4 separate regions of the Homo sapiens genome follow, and regions 1, 3 and 4 are each linked to region 2. The links come from fine-mapping of genetic effects on gene expression. A gene starts in region 2. Each other region holds a variant in brackets. All regions are shown on one strand. Distances are from middle to middle. Region 1 overlaps SLC36A1 (solute carrier family 36 member 1). Region 2 holds the start of SLC36A1 (solute carrier family 36 member 1). Region 3 overlaps LOC105378234 (a long non-coding RNA gene). Region 4 overlaps SLC36A1 (solute carrier family 36 member 1).

Region 1 (2,686 bases), 33 kb before region 2:
GTGAAAGACAAAATTATGTGTAAACTACAATTGCAACTATTTTTACAAGGCACCCATGAGGATTAAGACACAGAAGATACAATGCAAAAAAAAATTACTTTGTTAAATTGGTGGAATACTGGAATTTCTTCTTTTATTCCCAAATGTTTTTACATTGACTTTCTTTTTTTAGAGTAATATTTGTGTAGAAACTTAAAATCAAGCGCAAAGCACCTATACAGAATCACAGAATTTTGGAGTTGAGAGAAACCTTAGAGGTCAGACACCCTTCCTATCTTACAGTTGAGGACCCTGAGGCCTTATGAGGGTTCCTGGGCGGGGAATGCAGGGTGGGGGGTGGCAGGGTTACACAGCTAATTAATGATGCTGCTCTTCTTCACTGTAGCTGCAAGACTAAAAAGTGTGAAAGGCCCAAAGGTACTAAGAAGCTACTCTGTTTGGACCTGGAAGCTTCATCCTCTAAAAATCCGACTGCTTGGAATGTTTTGCAGCTCTGCATTCCAGTCTGAACAGGCTTCTTGGATGATGCGATTTTAGGTAATTATATCTTCAGAAATAGGTTTCTGAAATTTTCATAGCAAACTGAAGTAAAATGTTTCACATGGCAAATGACACAGAGAATCAGTATGAATCACTGAAGGATGGATGGGTTATTGCTCCAAAGAAATCTAAAAAACCGTTGATCCTACAACTCCAGACTCCACAGGTGGGGCCAGCCTCTTCCACACAAGGTCTGGACATAAGGTGACCTGCTAAGTCCGCATTTCCAAAAATATGGGCTGGAAGTAGATACTGTCCGATATGAAATCATAACAAAATGAGCACTATCCTATGAAATACTTGTTTTCCCTCCCCCTCTTCTCCAACTGTTTGAAATTAAGCATCACAAAGTCCGTATCAGCCATAGTAATCTTTGGAGGATGGGGGAGAGTGGTGAGAAAGTTGAATTCCAAGAGGGAAAAAAAAAAAGAAACTACACTGAATTCCTCCTGTTCCCTTTGGAGGGTGAAGAGGAGGAGGAAAAGTTGGGGAAAAGATAGGAAAACACCAGAAATAGTAATAAAAGAAGCTGCTGTTAAAATTTATGAATATAAATGAAAAAAATCAATTAAAGATCTAAAATCACATACTAA[C/T]CAACGGTGCTGAAAGATCTGAAAGAACAGAGAAGCAAGAACAAAATGAACGCGCATAAATACATTTAAGTTGCTGCTGCCATGAAAGGCCTCTACTGAGTCCCACAATTACTTCAAAGTCTCCAAGGAAGGTGAGAGAGGCGAGTGCTCTCAGACATAAAGGGGGCTGCCTTTTTGAACAGGATGACAATGCAATGCTAAGTCACAACAGATCACAGAAGGGAAAAACAACTGCACACACTTGAAGACCAAAAGCAGCCGTGTCTTCTGAGCATCGTCCTGTTGAAGGGAGATGAGACTCACAGACAGGGCCAGGAAAAGTGAAGCAAAATCCAAGAGGCATCTAAGGATAACATGAGGTCTGTGAATCAGAGACTGCTGTCTCCTGCAGGGTGCTGCAGAAATAAACCTGGCAGGAAGTGTGACATATGCTACAGGGAGGCTGAGCCAGGCTGGAGGGGAAAATTGGGCAGGGAGAGGAGTCAGGCTCCTGTCACTGCCCCAGCTCAATAGGCAGGGTGGAGGAGCTGTTTAGTCAGGAAGGCACATTTTACCTACAGAGACCTACTTTTTCCGGAGGGAGCACTTTGGATAAAAGCAAATTATTTGAACTAACCACACTCTTTCTTCCAGTGCCCTTTAGATTTAAGAATTGGGCCCTCAGAGTTTACATTATAAATACCATACACGTGAAAGCTGTCTCCTCAAGCACTTAGAGCTACTCCATCCACGGTGGAAACATACACTTTGGAATCAAAGCATGGAGAGTTACTGGCACAAGATAGGATTAAAATTTACAGTCCAAGCATCCCATCTTAGCAGCACACATTAAGGCAATCTATTAGAAAAGCAGGATACATCATGTTCCTTCTTTTTCAGTCGCTGTGGGAACAGCAGCTGGCTTTCAACAGCCCTGGCCCCTGGATTAGCTGCTGCGTGGGCTGTTTCTATATAGGCTGGTCTAGGAGAGGGCCTGAAGGAGTGACTAAGAGCAAATGCTAGACAACTTTCCCATCTTTCATCCTTAAAACATTCAACCCTAATTAGAATTTAAAAAGTCATATGGATCTATCTTTATCCCAAAGACAGAGGCTCAGACTGAATAATTTAAGAAAATTCTCAGGGAAGTCTCAACATAATAAGCAAAGAGGTTCTTGTTCAAAAATAATAAAACCTAAAAAGAGAAAAAAAAGCCAAATAGAGCCAAAAAGAGGAATCTATGCTTTTAAGCATTTGAATTTGGAAAACAATTGCAAATCTCTTAGAAACTTAAATTAGCTATTATCAACCGATTTGCTCAGGGGTTCTCTAGTCTACCAACTCACAGAAGCTACAAAAAAAATTTACTTTTATTTTCTAAATGTCACCAGTTTTCAACCACAGCAAACAGAAGGGTATCCTGTCTTTTAACTTACACTCCTGGGAATGGGGTTGAGAGAAGAAGAATAAAACACAAGTGATCAATCAAATACCTAGGTTAATCAATAGAAATTTTCTGAAACATATTTAGTAAGACTGACATTAAAAAATGTCTAGAATACTATCATAAAGCC
Region 2 (2,686 bases):
TTAAAATAATAACAGACAGTTAAAAATCATTTTCAGCTGTTAGTATTTAGCTTAGACATAATACAGAGATAGGAAGAAAGAGGAGGAGGATTTTATAGCAACAGAGGAATAAGCAGAGGAAACTGCTTCCTACACAATTAGATTAAGTCTTGTTGCAAGGCTGATACTCAGTGTACACAGCGGGTAAAATCTCTCGGAATAAAAAAACAAACAGACCCTGGTCAGGGGCACTGGCTCACACCCCTGTAATCGCAATACTTTGGGAGGCCAAGGTGGGAGGATCACTTGAGCCCAGGAGTTTGAGATCAGCCTGGGCAGCATAGTGAGACCTCATCTCTATTTAAAAACAAACAAACAAAAAAACAAGCCTAGAAAGATGCACAACATCCAGATCACAGCAGAAGGGGCCCTTAAGAATTCAATTCCATCACTGTCTAGACTGAGAAACCCAAACGCGAGTCACTTAAGGTTGCCAGGTAAGCGGCAGAGCTAGGACAAAATATCCTGATTCCCCAATCTCTGTTCTGTCCATTGCACCATGATGCTATCTTCAGCAAAATTCAAATAACTGCAAAACGTCCATCCAAATAAGCAATCCCAAATCTGACAAGTTACAGAAAAAATAAAGCAAAGGTCTTTACATTCTTCAAGTTAACGTCAGGGCTCTCCACAACCTCGGCTCAGCCACCTATCTTCCCAGAAGCACATTCCGATTCATATTTCATATTTTGGTGTGACTTACATAGAATGCAGGAAGGTTAGAAACCAAACCTACAGAAGGATGAGTTTGCAGAAAAATAATGAACAAACAGGGAACCACACCCAGAGCAAATCCAACCCCAGCGGTGGAAAATGCAGACAGCTAAAAAGGGAGAGGACTAAAAGAGAAAGGGACAGAAAGGAGTGCCTTTTCACAGGTGAAGTTTCCCGCAGGAGGCGGTGTGGCGAAAAGCAAACAGCTGCTGAAGCTTAGGAACATTTGCATTCTAGTCGCAGGTCTCCGGGTCTCCGATTAACTCACTGGATGACCTTAGGCAAGCCCTTACCCCTTCCCGGAGTAAGGGCTCAGTTTCTCCAACTGTCCTAGGAGGGAGCTGCACCAGACGACTTCCCAGCGTCCTTGCAGTTCTGACCCAAAGACCCATTATGAGCCTGTCTCAAGCAGCGCTCCCGCAGCGGGCAAGACATTTGCTGGAAACGGGGAGACCTGTGCGAAGCGTGAAAGACGCCCTAGATGGTCCTTTGGGTTATCTTCACCATCTACCCCAGTTTCCCCCACCTGTCAGTCAAACAGGACGGTGAGATCCCAACCCCACGAGGTCAAGGGAGATAGCGCGAGGGACAAGGGATCTCCACGCTTCGCCCAATTCACAGAGGGGTGTCAGCGTCGTACCGCAGCTGCGGCCCGGGGACGCCAAGGAGTCGCGGACCCACAGCCCGGGCGGATCCAGTGCCTGACCTGGAGCATCTGCCACGCCGGGAGGAAGGCGAGGTGGGTCCTGCCCAAGGCGGCGAGCGCCGCCAGCCGGCAGCCAGTGGAGGAACTCACTGCTCGGGTTCTGGCCCCAGCTCCGGCTCCGGCTCTGGCTTCAGCACAGCCCACCCTTCCCGGGTTCAGTATCAGCCCCTCGCCATCCTCCTTTGCTGCCCGGCAGCCGCTTCCGGACCTCATCACGTGATCCCACCGCCCACGCCAGAGGCCGAGGTCACGTGCTCCCTTGAGCGGCCGCGCCTTTTTTCTCACTGAGCTCCGGAGCTCTGCTCCACAGCACCACCTGGCGACCTATTACTGCCACTGCTGGAAGGACTATGTTCCTGGGCGCTGGGGACTGCGAATAGGAACTGAACAGGGCATTGATCTTGGGCATGGGGCAGAGTCCAGTCGAAGAGCACTGTCCCTTGAGTTGTGGGTTTGTGAAATATTGCTAATTTTTACACTGGCTGTATTTTCTTTTACACATCTCGATGAGTTTGTATTGCTTTTATAATAAGAAATATGCATATTTTTAAAACTTCCAATTTTTCAGAAGCATACACAAACTATCATCTGTGGTTGCTACTGGAAATGGAACTGTGGGGTAGGGCAACATTATCTTTTAATACATTCAAATTTTTAAAGTAACATTTTTAAATGGATGGCAACATTTCAGTATTGTATTATCTAGGCTTCTCCTTTTACCTCCTTGTTACAGACTTTTCCTTTAACAATTATGTAACAAATAGGCTTCAAGTCAAAAACTGTCACAAGAGACAGAGAAGATCATTGTTTAATAATAAAGGGGTCAATTCATCAAGAAGACACAACTGTAAATATATATGCATGCAAAATTGGAGCACCTAAATACATACAACTAATATTAATGGCCATGAAGGGAGAAATAGATAGCAACACAATAGTAGGAGGGTCAATATCCCACTTTCAACAATGGATAGAGCAACTAGAGAGAAAATAAGGAAATAATGAACTTGAATTGCACTTTAAACCAAATGAACCTAACAGATATATACAGAACTTTCCATTCAACAGAAACAGAATACACATTTTTTCTCTAACACACTTGAAACATTCTCTAGAATAGACCATATGCTAGTCCAAAAAACAAGCCTTAAATTTAAGAAGATTGAAATCATATTAATATTCTTTCAGACCATAATAATATGAAGCTAGAAATCAATGACAGGAGGA
Region 3 (2,686 bases), 91 kb after region 2:
CAGACCGTGGTCAAATAGGGCAAATGCTGAGCCTTAACCAATCAAGTTCTCTCTGTCCTTCACTTCCATTTTATGTCCATAAAAGTTCTCTGACCACAATGCAGCCTGGAGCTCTCTGAACCTATTCTGGTCTTGGGGTTGCCTAATTCATGAATCATTCTTTGCTCAATTAAACACTGTTAAATCTTATCTGTCTATAGGTTTTCTTTTAACAGATGCCACAAGATTTAGGTTTTAATCGTGGAGAATACCAGCAGATTTCTGGAAGTAAAAGAGCAAGAAGGCACAGAGTTCATGCTCAGAAAATATATGTTGACTTAAGTCAGAGGTTGGCAAGCTTTTTCTATACAGAGCCAGATGGTAAATATTTTAACCTTCGTGGTCTGTATGGTTTCTGTCACAACTACTCAACTCTGCCAATGTAGCATGAAGGCAGATTTAAACAATACGTAAATGAATGGGCATCCTGAGTTCCAATAAAACCTTTTTTCTAAAAACAGGTGTCAGGATAGATTTGGCCAATAGGCCATAGTTTACTAACCCCTGCTTTAGGTTATTTCAAAAGAAGAGATAAATCAGATAAGATTAGTATTAATACTTGGCCCAAAAGGCCTATCATTCAGCTTGTAAGGAAGTAAAAGTCCACAAAATCTCCTACTCTCCAAAAACAGCAATGGAAGCTCCATCTCTCCCTTGACAGAAGAACCACCCAAACTGGCTAGTGCTCCTTTTAGTGCCAAGAACAATGATGGGTTTTGTCATGCTGATACTGGCAGCCAACCACCTTTCTCTCACTACCTACCACCTATTATCACACAACCACCGCTAAAGCCCTTAGCTATGTGGGCCTGTGGCTTAAGTGAGGTTCCGGCTGTGATCCAGGGAAAGGCCTTTTGTGGCTTTGTGAATGGGGGTCAGAAATCTAGGAAATGAAGATTTTCCAGTTGTCTACCACTACACATGGGCATCACTAAACCGATGAACTTCGAGTTCCTTATCTGTAACATGGGGACTATAATTCCTACCCTTCTTCCT[C/T]TTAGATTTGCTAACATCAAGGAGATTCTGGATGGGTCAAGTGCTTGGGGACCTGCATAGTCCTCTACCTATGGGAGCACCCTGCTTGTGTGAATATTATCATCAGCTACCTGGCTTCATTCCCTTGACCCTATCTAGCTTCCTATTTTTTTCTTCCTTATTGATCCACAATAAGGAATTGCACAGGAAATCATGAGCAGGTTGAAGGGAAATGTTAGGTCTGAAGTTAAATTTGAGAGAGAAAATTGCCCCCAGTTGTGTAGCATGTTCTTCACTGAATTTATGGCAGAGAACTATGGCCTAGAAGAGGGGCTGACCACAACTGAATGCCCAGAGGTAAACTTTAATGTGGAGGGATTTTTTGAACTGCTTCCTTGTCTTTGAGTAAGTGGATGAGAGGGGGGTACTTGAAACTGGACTTCAATGTTGAATTTCCTCTTGCAAAAATTCAGGAGGAGAGCCAGTGCCTGAAGGGCATTTCAGGGAGAAGATTCAGCCACCAGAGACCTACTATATGCCCAACACACGTAGTTCCTAAGGATGAAAGGGAACACAAAGATGACAGCCCCTCTCCTCCTAGAGTTTGCTGGCTCCAGCTCGGAGGAGGTGTGAGTAACAGATATACGCCTCATCTCTCTCTCGTAGCACTTTTCTTCTAGCACTTTATCAGGTCTTCGTGTATTCTTTTTTTTTTTTTTTTTTTTTGTGAGACAGAGCCTTGCTCTGTTGCCTAGGCTGGAGTGCAGTGGCGTGATCTCAGCTCACTGCAACCCTACCTCCCAGGTTCAAGCGATTCTCCTGCCTCAGCCTCCCAGTTAGCTGGGATTACAGGTGTGAGCCACCATGCCCAGCCAGTTTTTGTATTTTTAGTGGAGATGGGGTTTCTCCATGTTGACCAGACTGGGCTTGAACACCTGACCTCAGGTGATCCACCCACCTCAGCCTCCCAAAGTTCTGGGATCCTCCTGTATTCTTAACATATCCTTTGTAAAATTTTAATTTTGTTACAAAATAGCACATTAATATTAATTTTTAAATATGCCTTTAAAATCAAAAACATTGGAATTAAAATACAAAATTCCCACATCTGCTTCACCCCTAAGTGTCCACTTATATTCTCACACTGCAGGAGGAACTACTGTGAATCCTTCCAGATCTTTCTCAAGCATATACAACCATGTGTATACAAGATGTGTATGCATGTGTATTTTCTATGTTTGGGTTCTTGCAGTTGGAGATGTATGCGGTTTTATGCTTTTCTCAAAAATAAATTGATTCCATTTGTTTTTTGAAAAATGGGTTCATGTTGTACTTAGTGTGATGAACATTTCATATTTCACAGTAATATATCCTAAATCTCCCTCCACGTCAGTATATACAGATATGCTTGAGTCTTTTTAACAGCCATGGCAATATTCCACTCAATAGAATTAGGATAATTTATGAACAATTATCCTCCTGTGGTACATGCAGGTTGTCTCCATTTTTTGCTATTACAGATAATGCTGCAGTAAACACCCTGGGGTATACGTGTGTGAGCATTTCTAGAAGAGATTATTAGAAATTAAATTGCAGAGTTAAAAGGAATGCACTTTTTCAAATTTTTATAGATATTACCAAATTCACTTCCAGTAGTATGTCGTATTGTGGC
Region 4 (2,686 bases), 26 kb before region 2:
TGATTTCTCACGATTTTGACAAAAAATGTGTACAGCTTCTAGGTTTTCTTAAAAGCAAATAAGGTGTCTCGGAAATCAAAAAAGAGAAAGAAGTGCCGTGCCGGGAGGAGGCTCTTCCCATTTGTGGCGCCCTTGGCCAGGAATAACTTTCTTCAGAGAAGAGTTTTGTACCATTATTATGAAAAATACAAATAAAATTCAAATTAGGTAAAAGTGAGGGGTAGATTCCTTTTTAGGAAAAGCATTTGGTGAAATCACAGAATGCTGAGCCAGGAGTGAAGGCTGCTCTTTTGCACGCAGAAAATACACCAAACCAATGTTGTAGGGCAGAGAAATTATTCATGCATTTATTGATTCAATAATAAAATAACATTATTAATAAAATAAAAATCTATTAAACATTTACCATGTGTCAGGGTCTGTGCAAAGCATTTTGCACATATCTCATTTAATCCTAATAACTACGAATCATTAAGCTCACTTTTCAGGAACAAATAATGAAGGCTCAAAGAGATGAAGCCCTTGCTCAAGGTCACACAGCTACTCTATGGCAGAGCCAGGACTTACCCCCATGTCAGTCTGACTCTAGACCCTGCCTTCCTGATTGCCATATGCTATTCCTTACTGCACACATAGGAGATGAGTGTGCAGTGAAGGGGCCTTGAATGTAAACATTTTAAAATTACATATAATTTGTCTTGAAAAGTTGAAGCTGGGAAATCTCAATGGAATCCCCGAAACACTATTCACTAACTGACCAGTGAGTTACAGAAGATAATTTCTTTTTTTTTTTTTTTTTTTTGAGACAGAGTCTCGCTCTGTCACCCAGGCTGGAGTGCAGTGGCGTGATCTTGGCTCACTGCAACCTCCGTCTCCCCAGTTCAAGCAATTCTCCTGCCTCAGCCTCTCGAGTGGCTGGGATTATAGGCGTGTGCCACCATGCCTAGCTGATTTTTGTATATTTAGTAGAGATGGGGTTTCACCATGTTGGCCAGGCTGGTTTCGAACTCCTGACCTCAAGTGATCCACCAGTCTAGGCCTCCCAAAGTGCTGAGATTACAGGCGTGAGCCACCATGCCTGGCCTCAGAAGATACTTTCTAACAATGTTTCCTCAGCATTCCTTGAAACAGACCTGGAGAACACCAAGGGCACCAGAGAACACTAGCCCAAATCACAGTGCAGCTCTTACCATTCCAATGCCTTCAAATGAAAAAATCGCTGTGCCAAAGAAGAGAGGGTAGGTCTTCCAAGGGGCCACCAAGGGGAGGTGGCTGGGGTCTGGGATCCTCTGAAAGACAGAAAGCAAAACAAAGCAAAA[CAAAGCAAAAG/G]GCTATACAGAAATTCAAGATTTGAACTCTGAATCGGAGAGGTCATACCTTTTAACAAATCCAAGATTCTCTAAAGGAAGAAAGTCTAATACCTGACAGATGATTTAGGGACATTTAACCTTTGTATGTTTTTCTCTTCAGGCTAAGAAAAACCCACTTGTTTGGGGGAAAGACAAGCCCAAGGTACTATTAAAAACTCAAATGTTGGGGCTTGCATAAAAAGAGTCACATTCTTTCACTAGGTAATCCCATCCCCAGAAACTGAATTCAAGTAGAAAAAAAATCAAAAGATGAAAAACACTGAGCAAAGCTGTTTAATAAAGTAACTGAAAACAATATAAGTGCTTCCAAACAAGGGATCAGTTAAGTAATTAACAACATACCAGCTAAACCACAGAATATATATTCTATCTATCTATCTATCTATCTATCTATCTATCTATCTATCTATCTATCTAGAGACAGAGTCTCCTTCTGTCACCCAGGCTGGCGTGCAGTGGCGAGATCTCGGCTCACTGCAACCTCCCTCTGCCTCCTGGGTTCAAGCAATTCTTCGTGCCTCAGCCTCCTGAGTGGCTAGGACTACAGGTGCGTGCCACCACACTCGGCTATTTTTTGTATATTTTTGGTAGAGACAGGGCTTCACCATGTTGGCCAAGCTGTTTGTGAACTCTTGATTTCAAGTGATCTGCCTGCCTCGGCCTCCCAAGGTGCTGGGATCACAGGCGTTGGCCACTGCGCCTGGCCAGTATGCACTATTAAAAAGTAAAAATTGAGATAACTAAGTAGAACATGAAAAACTACTTACGAAATATTAGTGAGAAAAAATTTTAATTTTAATTTATATATTCACTCTGATACAACTACATAAACATCAAAGATAAAGCTGGAAGGGAAGAGAAAGTGGTACATTTTTATATTGGTTCTCTTCCTTTTTCCTCTTCTTTTCTTCTCCTTTTTAAAATTCTCATCAATGAACTTGAGCACTTTCAAAGTATTACCAAGAAGCACACAACAGGAGTGCTGGAACATGTGGGGAGGAGGAGCAAAAAGAATGCTTTAAAAAATGGGCCAGAAAAAGGGCAACTGTTAACTGCAGGTACAATGTTAAGGTTGTATAAGGAAGGAGGTTGTGATGGTTAATACTGAGTGTCAACTTGATTGCACTGAAGGAGGCAAAGTATTGTTCCTGCGTGTGTTTGTGAGGGTGTTGCCACATTTGAGTCAGTGGACTGGGAAAGGCAGACCCACCCTTAATCTGGATGGGCACAATCTAATCAGCTGCCAGCTCGGCCAGTGGCCAGATTAAAAAGCAGGCAGAAGAATGTGAAAAGGCTAGACTGGCTTAGCCTCCCAG

What was found.
Region 1: its variant is fine-mapped to the expression of SLC36A1 in cerebellum (GTEx, PIP above 0.99). The same link has a PIP of 0.9 or more in left ventricle and skeletal muscle.
Region 3: its variant is fine-mapped to the expression of SLC36A1 in whole blood (INTERVAL, PIP above 0.99).
Region 4: its variant is fine-mapped to the expression of SLC36A1 in whole blood (TOPMed, PIP above 0.99). The same link has a PIP of 0.9 or more in Th17 cells and non-classical monocytes.

What each region holds. Positions count from the first base shown.
Region 1 is chr5:151,479,923-151,482,608 of GRCh38, reverse strand. The region is part of intron 10 of SLC36A1 (solute carrier family 36 member 1); the gene reads right to left. Among named protein-coding and RNA genes, the nearest start is that of SLC36A1, 34 kb to the right of the region's middle. The variant C/T (reference allele first, on the strand shown) is at 1,134.
Region 2 is chr5:151,446,587-151,449,272 of GRCh38, reverse strand. It overlaps SLC36A1 (solute carrier family 36 member 1), which reads right to left and starts at 1,670. Exons shown (of 11, transcript NM_078483.4): 1 at 1,460-1,670. RefSeq lists an enhancer at 1,641-1,690.
Region 3 is chr5:151,355,394-151,358,079 of GRCh38, reverse strand. The region is part of intron 5 of LOC105378234 (a long non-coding RNA gene); the gene reads left to right. It also overlaps a transcript of SLC36A1 not described here. Among named protein-coding and RNA genes, the nearest start is that of SLC36A2, 9.2 kb to the right of the region's middle. The variant C/T (reference allele first, on the strand shown) is at 1,036.
Region 4 is chr5:151,472,276-151,474,961 of GRCh38, reverse strand. SLC36A1 (solute carrier family 36 member 1) reads right to left here. Exons shown (of 11, transcript NM_078483.4): 8 at 1,191-1,289. Among named protein-coding and RNA genes, the nearest start is that of SLC36A1, 26 kb to the right of the region's middle. The variant CAAAGCAAAAG/G (reference allele first, on the strand shown) is at 1,320.